Linked DNA regions of Homo sapiens. The protein of the gene in region 1 interacts with the protein of each later gene in a biochemical or structural test. Each region holds a gene or a part of one and is shown in the gene's direction. Other genes may lie near its edges. The genes, in order: AKAP5, TRPV1 and IQGAP1.

The links.
Region 2: the proteins of AKAP5 (region 1) and TRPV1 form a complex in vitro, tested with the Homo sapiens proteins (one study listed by BioGRID).
Region 3: the proteins of AKAP5 (region 1) and IQGAP1 form a complex in vitro, tested with the Homo sapiens proteins (one study listed by BioGRID).

What each region holds. Positions count from the first base shown.
Region 1 is NC_000014.9:64,464,048-64,468,419, forward strand, and holds the start of AKAP5 (A-kinase anchor protein 5), read left to right. Parts: upstream 1-1,451; 5' UTR 1,452-1,566; intron 1,567-4,084; 5' UTR 4,085-4,347; coding exon 4,348-4,372. UniProt on the Homo sapiens protein: Multivalent scaffold protein that anchors the cAMP-dependent protein kinase/PKA to cytoskeletal and/or organelle-associated proteins, targeting the signal carried by cAMP to specific intracellular effectors.
Region 2 is NC_000017.11:3,574,877-3,578,526, reverse strand, and holds part of TRPV1 (transient receptor potential cation channel subfamily V member 1), read left to right. Parts: intron 1-763; coding exon 764-929; intron 930-1,334; coding exon 1,335-1,401; intron 1,402-3,650.
Region 3 is NC_000015.10:90,485,636-90,489,285, forward strand, and holds part of IQGAP1 (ras GTPase-activating-like protein IQGAP1), read left to right. Parts: intron 1-394; coding exon 395-497; intron 498-1,318; coding exon 1,319-1,454; intron 1,455-1,859; coding exon 1,860-1,947; intron 1,948-3,650. UniProt on the Homo sapiens protein: Plays a crucial role in regulating the dynamics and assembly of the actin cytoskeleton.

The sequences.
Region 1 (4,372 bases):
TTTTGAGGCAGGGTCTCACTTTGTTGCCCAGGCTGGCGTGCAGTGGTGCAGTAGTGGCTCACAGCAGCCTTGACCTTCTGGGCCCAAGTGATCCTCCCTTCTCAGCCTCCTGAGCTCCTGAGTAACTGGGACCATACGTGCACCACCATGCCCAGCTAATTTTTTAGATTTTTTTGTCTCCCTATGTTGCCCAGGCTGGTCTCAAACTCTTGGACTCAAGCCATCCTCCTGCCTTGGCCTCCCAAAGTGCTGGGATTACAGGTGTGAGCTACTGCGCCCATCCCTGAATTCTTAATTACAACTAAACTAGATGCTTATGGATTTTCCTGTTTTACAACTCTTGCCTCTTTTATCTGTAATTTTAAGATCTTGACAGCTTATATTTGGCTTTGCTTTTGTGTCTCAAGAGTTCTTTCCTTGATAAGCCTCTGTGGAAACTACAGAATCTTACAAATATAAAACATTTCCGGAAAAAATACAAAAATGGACACCTGACATTTACACTCCCTAAGGTCGTGATCCTGTTGAAGAAAGGAGATGAACGCGGCTGCTTTTCAGTAGTTCTTCACTTCACCTTACCAGGTTCTTCATCTGGATGCTATGCTATGGGGGCCAGAGGAGGAGGCTGGGATTGTGATGGATCCTACTAGATTTTACAGCTGGAGCTCCCAGGAATGCCCTCATAGGGAATGTCCTGAAGGGAATCATGGGTAACTTGTAAGCTACCTCAACTTATTTTTGGAACTATGTAAGGTATAAGATGGATGGAGCTGGGTTCCTGTGCCTTTCTCACCTTGTCCGCATAGAGATGCAGCTGCTCCTGCAGGCCAAAGTTCTGCACCAATCACCTCCACCTGCTTCCCACTGGGAGACAAAGGTTTGAAAGCCTGTTTGGCGATGAACCACGATGATCTGACACTCAAGCCACTCCTGAGAAAGTCGGGTTTCTTTCTGTTTCCATTTATATATGTAATTTTCGCTTCAAACAAACATGACCTCGCTATTCTATGCACAGTTTTGAATCCTGCTTTTAAAATGCGATGTCTGCCTTGTCTTTAAATATTCTGAGGGGGAGGAGAGGAGATGTGTAATGCGACTGTCTATAATTTGAAACCGGACCTCACTATTTAGCGTCTCAGAAAACGCGGGGTTCATTGCCCTGGTCCCCCCCGCCTTCCCCCGCCCCCCGAACCTTCCGGCTGGCTCTCTTGCGGTCCCCGCCTCGGCGCTGATGTGGTCTGGCAGTGGAGATTGGCGCCCGGGCGGAGCACGATGGGCTTCCCCGCGGCAGGCAGGCAGGCTGCTGCTGCAGGTGGGTCCCGGCGCCCGCGCCGCCCCGCGCCTCCGGCGGTCGCCCCGCCCCTGCCCGCCCGCTCCGCTCCGCTCGCATTGGCGCTGCCTGCTGTCTGTCCCCGCGCGGTGGGGAGGGGGCGCACCCGGCGGCGGGCTCTGCAGAGGGCGCCTTGCTCCGGGTGCGACCGCGGCTCCCTGGAGGCCTGGGCGGCGGGCCCCGCGAGCGCGCCGCCACCTCGGGAGCAGTGTTGGCCAAGGACCCCGACGCCCTACGTAAGTAAAGGCAGGGCGGGGAGCCTGCGGGGGAGGAGGGTCGGGGGCAATGTCCGGTCCGCGGACCGCGGAGTGGGCAAGAGGTGCCCACTGGATACGGGGTATCCGAGCCCTCTGAGGTGCTGGGAGTAAGAACGCGGGAGGTCGCTTGTCCGCTGGAATCCGCGGCCAGGGCGACCCTCATCAGGTCTGCCCACCTATCCCCTTCGCGTTACAGCTTGTCTTAGAAGCATGGGTTGCCGGTGGCTTTTTTCCTTCTTTATCCCTCTTTGAGAAATGTGATTTTGGGTTTCTGGCCATTACATTATAATTCTGCAGACAGCCTGAAGCTGGGTTATCTGTTCCACGCCCCCGGCATTTTCCTTTTTGAGTACTTTATCCTGCGCTCTGTCTCCTGCCATAAGGGGCGTCAAGCCAGAATTCGAGATTCCTTCCTCCAGGAGGAAGCTTCGTGGTCCGTATCTGGTGCTGGGAAAGATGCATTGCTTTCCTCGGGTACTGGCTGCTCAAGGGAAAAAGGAAAGGGGGTGTTTTCTGTGACATGAGACTTGCAATTCCATCAGGAAATGAGCACAGGGACTTTAAGATTTCCTGAGGCGATAAAGCTACCCTTGCTGGTTAAGAGCGAATCATTTGCAGTCTGACATTCTGCAAAGTTTTATTGTCTACAGACTGCATTATTTTCCCTCGTTAGTTAAGTTTCTGTTTGGGTATTCGTTTTATTTCTAGTATGTGAGATACATTCAAGTGAGCTTCTCAAACGATTGTCTTTGCGCAATCCAGGTTAGTTTCCAATGACAGACTCCTAAACATCTCATTTCAATATTTCTATTATGTGGTAATACAGCCTCTGCTTAACAAAAATGCTCAGGTGCTGAAAACTCACAAGAGGTGAGAAGATTTAAACAGTTATCAGCTTAGGTTCTAGTGCTCACTGAAACATTGTGAGGAGAAACACTGTCAAATGTTCATATTTTAGTTCCGTCATTGTTCTAGAATGACTTTATCTTTCTGTTAGAGGCACACAGTATGAAACACCCAACCTAAGATAATATTTACTTAGATCATAAACTGATTTTCAGGGTTCCAGTTCCTTCTACAGTTCATAAAATTATGGGTTACCCAAATGAAACTTCAGTGAAGGATTTACATAAAAACAATATAAAGAATGAGTCCCTTTGCTTATTTTAGGGCATCCACCCACTAAAATTCATAGGATCTTTGTTGGATAATCACCTCCCATTTCCATTCTTTGGTGCCATCATACCATTCTAAGGATTAAATTTTCAATACACCTTTATATTATCTAAGTTTGCCAATTGCATAGTTTGCCAACTTATTTTTGGCTTTTAAATTAGTTCCTGAACCAAAAAAATAAAATATAAAGAATTTCAAAAGCTTGGTTTTCAAATGACAAGAACTCAGTCTACTCGTGGTTCAATTATGAGTTGATAAGTGCCTTATGGTTAAATGACCATTAATCAATTTTTTAATTTTTTTACTAATGAAACACTGCAGATTAGTATCCCCAAACAATTCATTTTCTGACGAAACTCTTAAAGCCCAGTTTCAGAACATAAGCTTTAAGCAACAAGCAATCTTGTGTTAATCTGAGCTCTGTTACAGCTCTGCCGTAATCTCAGCCAAATTGCTTCATCTGTACGTGGTGATACCACCATCTTTGTAATATTGTGGTGAGGATTAGAGATGTATGTAAAAGTGCATGCACTGCCTAATACCCAAGAATTGCTCAATAAATGTCAGCTATTACTACTCTTACTGACTTCCAACTATGTGCAGATTATGGTGGAAACATGTGATACAGCAGATACAGTACTTAAATGAAAATGTCAAAATTGTACAACTAATTTAAGAGTGGGAAATGACAGTAATGCTAAATTTTCCTAAGAATATGTATGAAAAATAGCACTTCCTTGATGGAACATACATTTTTAGAACAGAAACCTTATGTTATAATGGTAAAACTAGAGAGTCAAAGTCTCTAGTTCTAACTCTGGCTATGACCTTATCTAGTTGCATGGCTTTTGACAAGACAACTGCTCCCCTCTGGAGTTCAGTTTTGTCATCTGGCTGGATTTGAGTAATCTCAAATAATCTCTAAAGTCCTTTGCAGCTTTAAAATTATCTATTGAGTGTGATAAAGATTACATCAGCTTGCTTTTCATCCTGCACTTCATTTTTGGTTCTTGTTGTTTGCTTAACTTGCACTTTAGAGTCATAAGCAATTCACACAGACAACACAACTAAAGAACTGATAATATCAGACTTGCAGGGTAATCCAAAATGAAGTTTCAACAAGGAGGATAAAACAAAATAGAATCACACTGAACTCTTTAATAGGGCCAAAGTAAACCCCAATGTTTATTCTCCAGTCATTTCATTAAGTTATTATATGGAAAATATGCCTGGTAGAATCTTATACATTCACTGAAATAGTCTCCACAGAAAATAATAGGCTCATAGTGAAATAAAATACCACTTTCTTTTCTCTCATCAGGTTGATCTTTAAATAAAGCAAAAATTTATCCAAAGAAGGGCTTTCATCAAGAAATTAAAGAGAGAAATTACAAGCCATAGAGAAACTGGGCATTTCTATACTAGAGAAACCACCTAAAACAACTGTATGGAGTAAGATGAAAGGTATGAATATGCCTGGAAGAAATTTTACCTAGTGTGACATTTTTGCTCATCTTTTTGTCACAAAAGGCTGCTAAGGAAGAGAGAATACAGTTTTCTAGAGAATAAGAGTGCAGTGTAAAAATGGAAACCACAATTTCAGAAATTC
Region 2 (3,650 bases), on another chromosome or scaffold:
TAGAGGGGTGCACCTTGCCCAGGTAATTTTCATATTTTTAGTAGAGACAGGGTTTCACTGTGTTGGCCAGGCTGGTCTTGAACTCCTGACCTCAAGTGATCTGCCTCCCAAAGTTCTGGGATGACAGGTGTGAGCCATCACGCCTGGCCACTATATATCCTTTTATGTACTTTTTATTTATTTATTTATTTGTTTATTTATTTGTTTATTTATTTATTTGAGACGGAGTCTCGCTCTGTCTCCCAGGCTGGAGTGCAGTGGCATGATCTTGGCTCACTGTAACCTCCGCCTCCCGGGTTCAGGTGATTCTCCTGCCTCAGCCTCCTGAGTAGCTGGGATTACAGGCGTGCACCACCATGCCTGGCTAAATTTTTTTTTGTATTTTTAGTAGAGGTGGGGCTTCACCATGTTGGTCAGGCTGGCCTCGAACTCCTGACCTTGTGCTCCGCATGCCTCAGCCTCCCAAAGAGCTGGGATTAAAGGCGTGAGCTACTGCGCCTGGCCTTTAGGTACTATATTTATATCTGTGCTTTATACATAAAGAGTGAGATTTTGCACAGCTCCTCACCAAGCCAATTTCTGCTCCTTGGGGACGATGCTGCTTCCACGGAGAACGCCTGGGCTGAAAGAGTCAGGACAGCCCAACCCTAGCTCCTATTGCGGCCTGCAGTCTGGACCTCTGAGCGGCCTGTGACCTTTTGTTCTGGGGGTGCCAGGCCTCCTGGGTTCCCGTAGACGGAGCTTTCTGCCCCTCCACCCGCAGCTTTCTGCAGTCACTGTTCATGCTGGCCACCGTGGTGCTGTACTTCAGCCACCTCAAGGAGTATGTGGCTTCCATGGTATTCTCCCTGGCCTTGGGCTGGACCAACATGCTCTACTACACCCGCGGTTTCCAGCAGATGGGCATCTATGCCGTCATGATAGAGAAGGTGGGTTCCCTGGGCCCCAGTGGGTCTCCTCAGAGCCCGCTTACCTCGTGGTCATGTGAGATGGGGCCAAGAACTCCGCCCATCCTCTCTGTCGTGCCTGGGAAGGGGCTGGTTTACCCCCCAGCCTATTTTCCAAGAATCAAGCAATCTGGCCCTGACCCAGGTATGTGTAGGGGGGTCCCCTGAAACCTGACCCCCCCTGCACACCAGGCCTCCATCTCCCGACCAGAACAAAGGCTATGGGGGAAGGGTGGGTGACTCCCTCATGACCCCTGAGCTGAGAACCAGCAAAGCAAACCGCCCTGCACGTTCTCAAGACGCATCCCCAGGCCGATGCGGCCCGGCCCTTCCCTCAGCTCCTCCTGGGCCTGGCCTCGGCTCTGATGAGCCTGCTGTCTCCTGCAGATGATCCTGAGAGACCTGTGCCGTTTCATGTTTGTCTACATCGTCTTCTTGTTCGGGTTTTCCACAGGTAATGAGCTTGGTCAGCGCTGGGGGAGGGCAGGGGTCCTGCTTGGCTGAGCCTTCTGAAGACTCTGCCAGGAGCTGAATGAGAAGGCACTGGGTAGGCAGGTGCATGTCTGCAGGTGACTGAGAGGGTGGACAGAGGACACACTGAAATGAGCTCCAGGACTTGGCCACGTGTTATATAAAATGCTTTAAGAATTTTCCAGGCTGGAAGTGCTGTGGCTGCCACATAGCATTTTGGCTCAGTTGTTTTTTCAACTTTTTTTTTTTTTTTTTTTTTTGAGATGGAGTCTCACTCTGTCGCCAAGGCTGGAGTGCAGTGGCACGACCTTGGCTCACTGCAACCTCTGCCTCCTGGGTTCAAGCAATTCTCCTACCTCAGCCTCCCAAGTAGCTGGGATTACAGGCGCCCACGACCATGCCCGGCTAGTTTTTATGCATATATATATATATATATATATTTTTTTTTTTTTTTTCTCATACAGAGTCTAGCTCTCTTGCCCAGGCTGGCGTGCAGTGGCGCGATCTCGGCTCACTGGAGGCTCCGCCTCCCGGGTTCACGCCATTCTCCTGCCTCAGCCTCCCGAGTACCTGGGACTACAAGTGCCTGCTACCACGCCTGGCTAATTTTTTGTATTTTTAGTAGAGATGGGGTTTCACCATGTTAGCCAGGATGGTCTCGATCTCCTGACCTCGTGATCCGCCTGCCTCGGCCTCCCAAAGTGCTGGGATTACAGGCATGAGCCACTGCACCTGGCTAGTTGTTATATTTTTAATAGAGATGGGGTTTTACCATATTGGCCAGGCTGGTCTCAAACTCCTGACCTGAGGTGATCCACCCACCTTGGCCTCCCAAAGTGCTGGGATTACAGGCATGAGCCACAGTGCCTGGCCATTAATTATTTTTTGAGACAGAGTCTCATGCTGTTGCCCAGGCTGGAGTGCAGTGGCGCCATCTCAGCTCACTACAACCTCCACTTCCAGGGTTCAAGTGATTCTTGTGCCTCAGCCTCCCCAGTAGCTGGGATTACAGATGCCCGCCACCACACCTGGCTATTTTTTTTTTTTGTATTTTTAGTAGAGACGGGGTTTTGTCATGTTGGTCTTGAGCTCCTGACCTCAAGTGATCTGCCCGCCTCGGCTCCCAAAGTGCTAGGATGACAGGGTGAGCCACCGCGCCTGACCTTAGTCTTCTTTAATCCAGGGCACTTCCTGCATCATTCCTTGTCATTTGCGACCTCAGAATTTGTAATGAGTAGAGGCCAGTGGTTTTGACAATGTTTCTCAATTTGGGTGTGTCTGATGTTTCCTCACGATTATAGCCAGGCATGCATTTTTGGCCAGAATATCAAGAAGCCATGTGTGTCTTCTGCTGTGTGTTTTATTGGGAGTCACATGATGTCCGTCTCACTTCTGGTGACGTTAGCTTTGATGACTTGGTTTTGGTGGATCTGCCAGACTTTTCCACTGTAAAGCTACTATATTTACCTTTGTGATGGATACTTTTCAAGGAGATGCTTTGAAACTATGTGACTAGCCTGTTTCTCATCAGACTTTCACCAGGAGTTCTAGCATCCGTTGATGAGTCTTACCTGAATCACTTCATCCTGTGATGGTGGCCAAATGATGATTTTTTTTTTTTTTCTTGAGAAGGAGTCTCTGTCTGTCGCCCAGGCTGGCATGCAGTGGTGCCATCTCTGCTCACTGCAACCTCGGCCTCCCAGGTTCAAGCAATTCTCCTGCCTCAGCCTTCCAGGTAGCTGGGATCACAGCTGCCCATCATCACGCCCGGCTAATTTTTATATTTTTAGTACAGATGGGGTTTTACCATGTTACTCAGGCTGGTCTCAAACTCCTGACCTCAGGTGATCCGCCTGCCTTGGCCTCCCGAAGTGCTGGGATTACAGGCATGAGCCACCACACCCAGAGAAGATGATCTTCTAACTCCATCATTGCTTCTGCATTTATTACCTGGCATTCTGTTATAGAGAAGAGCTAACCATTCCCCATTTCTATGTATTTGTTTGTATCAGAATGGCCTCATGGAGTCTTTTGTTTTCATGGATTCTCACTTTGTTAAATGGGTTATAATCCTTACTATCCTCTTTTATTTTAATACTCAAATTGTCTGAGATTAGTCACTGGAGTCCCTTCCAGCTGGCTCCTGTGCTCTTTTCACATGTCCACATCTTTTTTTTTTTTTTTTTTTTTTGAGATAGAGTCTCGTTCTGTCGCCCAGGCTGGAGTGCAGTG
Region 3 (3,650 bases), on another chromosome or scaffold:
CATCATGTTGTCCAGGCTGGTCTTGAACGCCTGACCTCAGGTGATCCACCCGCCTTGGCTTCCCAAAATGCTAGAATTACAGACGTGAGCCACTGCACCCAGCCAGTGTTCTTTCTCAAACAGGGCACATTTGAATCCTTTATGGCCATGAGGTTAAGAGAATACCAGTATTTCCTCTTCTTATATCATAACATAAGTCATTCAACAGAGCCTGGTGTGGTGCCTTATATATCATATTGTTTATTTGGGTTAGTTTGCTGAGGATTTGCTTGTTGTTTCTTTGAATATAGGAACTTTGTTGGAACCTCTTTGTGCAGATCATTGTTAGACATTCTAGGGAGGGACGGGCTGAAGAGTTGAATGTATAAATGGAGTTGATCATTGGTGTTTGCAGCTCCTGTTGGATCACCAGGATGCCATTGCTCCGGAGCACAATGATCCAATCCACGAACTGCTGGACGACCTCGGCGAGGTGCCCACCATCGAGTCCCTGATAGGTAGAGTTCTAACTTTTGCCTGGAAGATCAAAAGGGAATGTGACAGAAAAGTGTTGTAATTGTCACCTCCTCTATTTTTTGCACTATACCAAACTCTGGATATACATTGAGAAATAAAATAGATGTGATCCTGATAGTTTCATAAGAGAGAAAACAACAACAACAACAAAAGCCCAGATGTGATCAATATCTATAAGGAACTGGAGTCAGAGGAAAAGATCATTTTAAACGCAGATACATACTGCCAGCTTGTGTTTTTTTAAAAAAATTGCAGATACATAAATTAAAAGTCCTCTAAAGGAAAGAATTTTTTTGTTTGTTTGTTATGAGACAGGGTCTCCCTCTGTTGCCCAGGCTGAAGTACAGTGGTGCAGTCATAGCTCACTGCAGCCTCAAATTCCTAGGCTCAAGTGATCCTCCTGAGTTGTTTTTTTTTTTTTTAATAGAGATGGAGTCTCACTATGTTGCCCAGGCTGGTCTCGAACTCCTGGCCTCAAGCCATCCTCCTCCTTTAGCCTTCCAAAGTGCTGGGATTGCAGGACTGAGCCACTGCACCCAGCCAGAAAGAATGTTTTCAGAGAGAATTGTGATATTGTAGTGTTGAAATGATTTCTCAAACATTTATGGAGTTATTATGGATCCCTTGCCTTTATCATTTGGCATAACATTTTATTTCTCAGTAAAAGTTGTTCTCGTCACACTGTATGTGTTAGGTGATTCAAGTATTATCTTAGACTTGCATCATCTTATATTTGTATTATTTCCCCCCAATATCTCCTCTCTTTATTACGCTGACTCTTTCCACCCTCCCAAAACTTCAGGGGAAAGCTCTGGCAATTTAAATGACCCAAATAAGGAGGCACTGGCTAAGACGGAAGTGTCTCTCACCCTGACCAACAAGTTCGACGTGCCTGGAGATGAGAATGCAGAAATGGATGCTCGAACCATCTTACTGAAGTGAGTATCAAAAGAAGGAAGAATGAAATGAATGTAATCTGAAGGTTTCTTGGCCTTTGGAGAGGAACCTGCTGGGTCCTACCTGAAATGACCATCCTGACCTCTCGTACTTGTCATAATCCCAGTCACCAATCACCTCGCATATTGTACTTGGTACAGGACTTATCTGCCTTATTTTGCTAATATGCTACAGTGAAATGTAAATCTTGGAAATCCTAACCCTCGTACCTACTTATGGAATGGCTGGGTAAATAAGCCTTGTGCCTTGAGTACTGTGTACTGGCAGCTGCCGCTTGGGACTTCTGTGAGGTACTGTTTGTGCTGCTGCTGCTGCTGCTGCTTCGGTCCACTTGAGAGGAACTAGAACACTGGTAATATTTAAATGCCTCCCCCATCTCGTTTCAGTACAAAACGTTTAATTGTGGATGTCATCCGGTTCCAGCCAGGAGAGACCTTGACTGAAATCCTAGAAACACCAGCCACCAGTGAACAGGTAAAATTTAGGGTCTAACATACTCCTTTGTTTGGTAGATAAGCTCTCCCGATAGGCGCATGTCAGAGAAAGGAGGGGAGACACAAATAACAGTTGGTAGCCTAGGGGTGAGCATGAATGTAACTGGGGGACAGTGGTAGTTATGGCTCGTCTGAGAAAGTTTTTGCTTCCTGAGTCCAGGTGATGTCCTTTGGACAGGAAGCTCACTGGCACTTGCATGCAGAATCATTGTGCCCATCCCGTATATCCATCCCTTGGTATCCACAGGCGATTCTTTCCAGCACCCATTCTCCCCACCCCCGGCCAATACCAAAATCCATAGATGTTGAAGTCCCTTATATAAAATGGTGTAGTATTTGGCCGGGCATGGTGGCTCATGCCTGTAATCCCAGCACTTTGGGAGGCTGAGGTGGGTAGTTCACGAGGTCAGGAGATTGTGACCATCCTGGCTAACACGTGAAACCCCGTCTCTACTAAAAATACAAAAAATTAGCCAGGCTAGGTGGTAGATGCCTGTAGTCCCAGCTACTTGGGAGGCTGAGGCAGGAGAATGGCATGTACCCAGGAGGCGGAGCCTGCATTGAGCCAAGATCGCACCACTGCACTCCAGCCTGGGCGACAGAGCGAGACTCCGTCTCAAAAAATAATAATAAATAAATAAATAAATAAATAAATAAATAAAATGTTGTAGTATTTGCATATACTTACGTTCTCCCATATACTTTAAATCATCTCTAGACTACTTATAATACCTACTACAATATAAATGCTGTGTAAATAGTTGTTACTGTATTTTTAAAATTTGTATTATTTTGTATTGTTGTATTTTTTTTTCAAACAGTTTCAGGGTTGGTTGAAACCATGAATGTGTAGGGTTCACTGCAATTTATTGAATATTATATATTTTGAATTCTGTTACATGCCTTGGTAGATAGAAGAAAAGTACAGAATGTGGCTCCTAAACTCAGTGAACCCATGGTCTTGTTGGGGAAATGTGACATATATACCTGAAACAGTGATGAACTGTTTCAAAATTAACTATGTTACTGACTGAAAAATAAGAGAAGTTTCAGGAAAGAGGCCAGTGAAGCAGTGCATTAGGAAGCTTCCTAAAAGAAGTGGAACCGGAGCCAGATGTATAAAGGTGGAAAGGATTTGGGTGTGCATGTAAGACAAGAGAGGGCATTCGAGGCAGGAGAGCGATGTGAACAAAGGTACAAAGGAGGGAAGAGCATGATGCGACTAGACTACATGTCTAGAATGGAGCTGTGGGTGGAGGTGAGTAGTGAGAAATAAAACATGAGACCAAATTATTTAGAACTCACAAACTAGATGGGAATTTGTCACTGCAGAGATAAGGAATAAAGAGCCTCTGTAAGGTTGAAGACCATTTAATAAAAGTTAATTAATTCAGCAGTGCTATTAGAGCAGATGTAGTTGAGTCATATAGGTGTGTGATAAGGTCCAGTGGGGTGGGCAGATGGTTGGGTCCTGGCATTTTGTAGGGTTGGATGAGTCATGTCATATCTAAGACCCTTGTTTCTTTTTTTTTTTTTTTTTTAATTTGAGACAGAGTCTCACTCTCACTCAGGCTGGACTGCAGTGGCGTGATCTTGGCTCACTGCAACCTCCGCCTCCTGGGTTCAAGCGATTCTCCTGCCTCAGCCTCCCGAGTAGCTGGACTACAGGTGTGAACCACCACA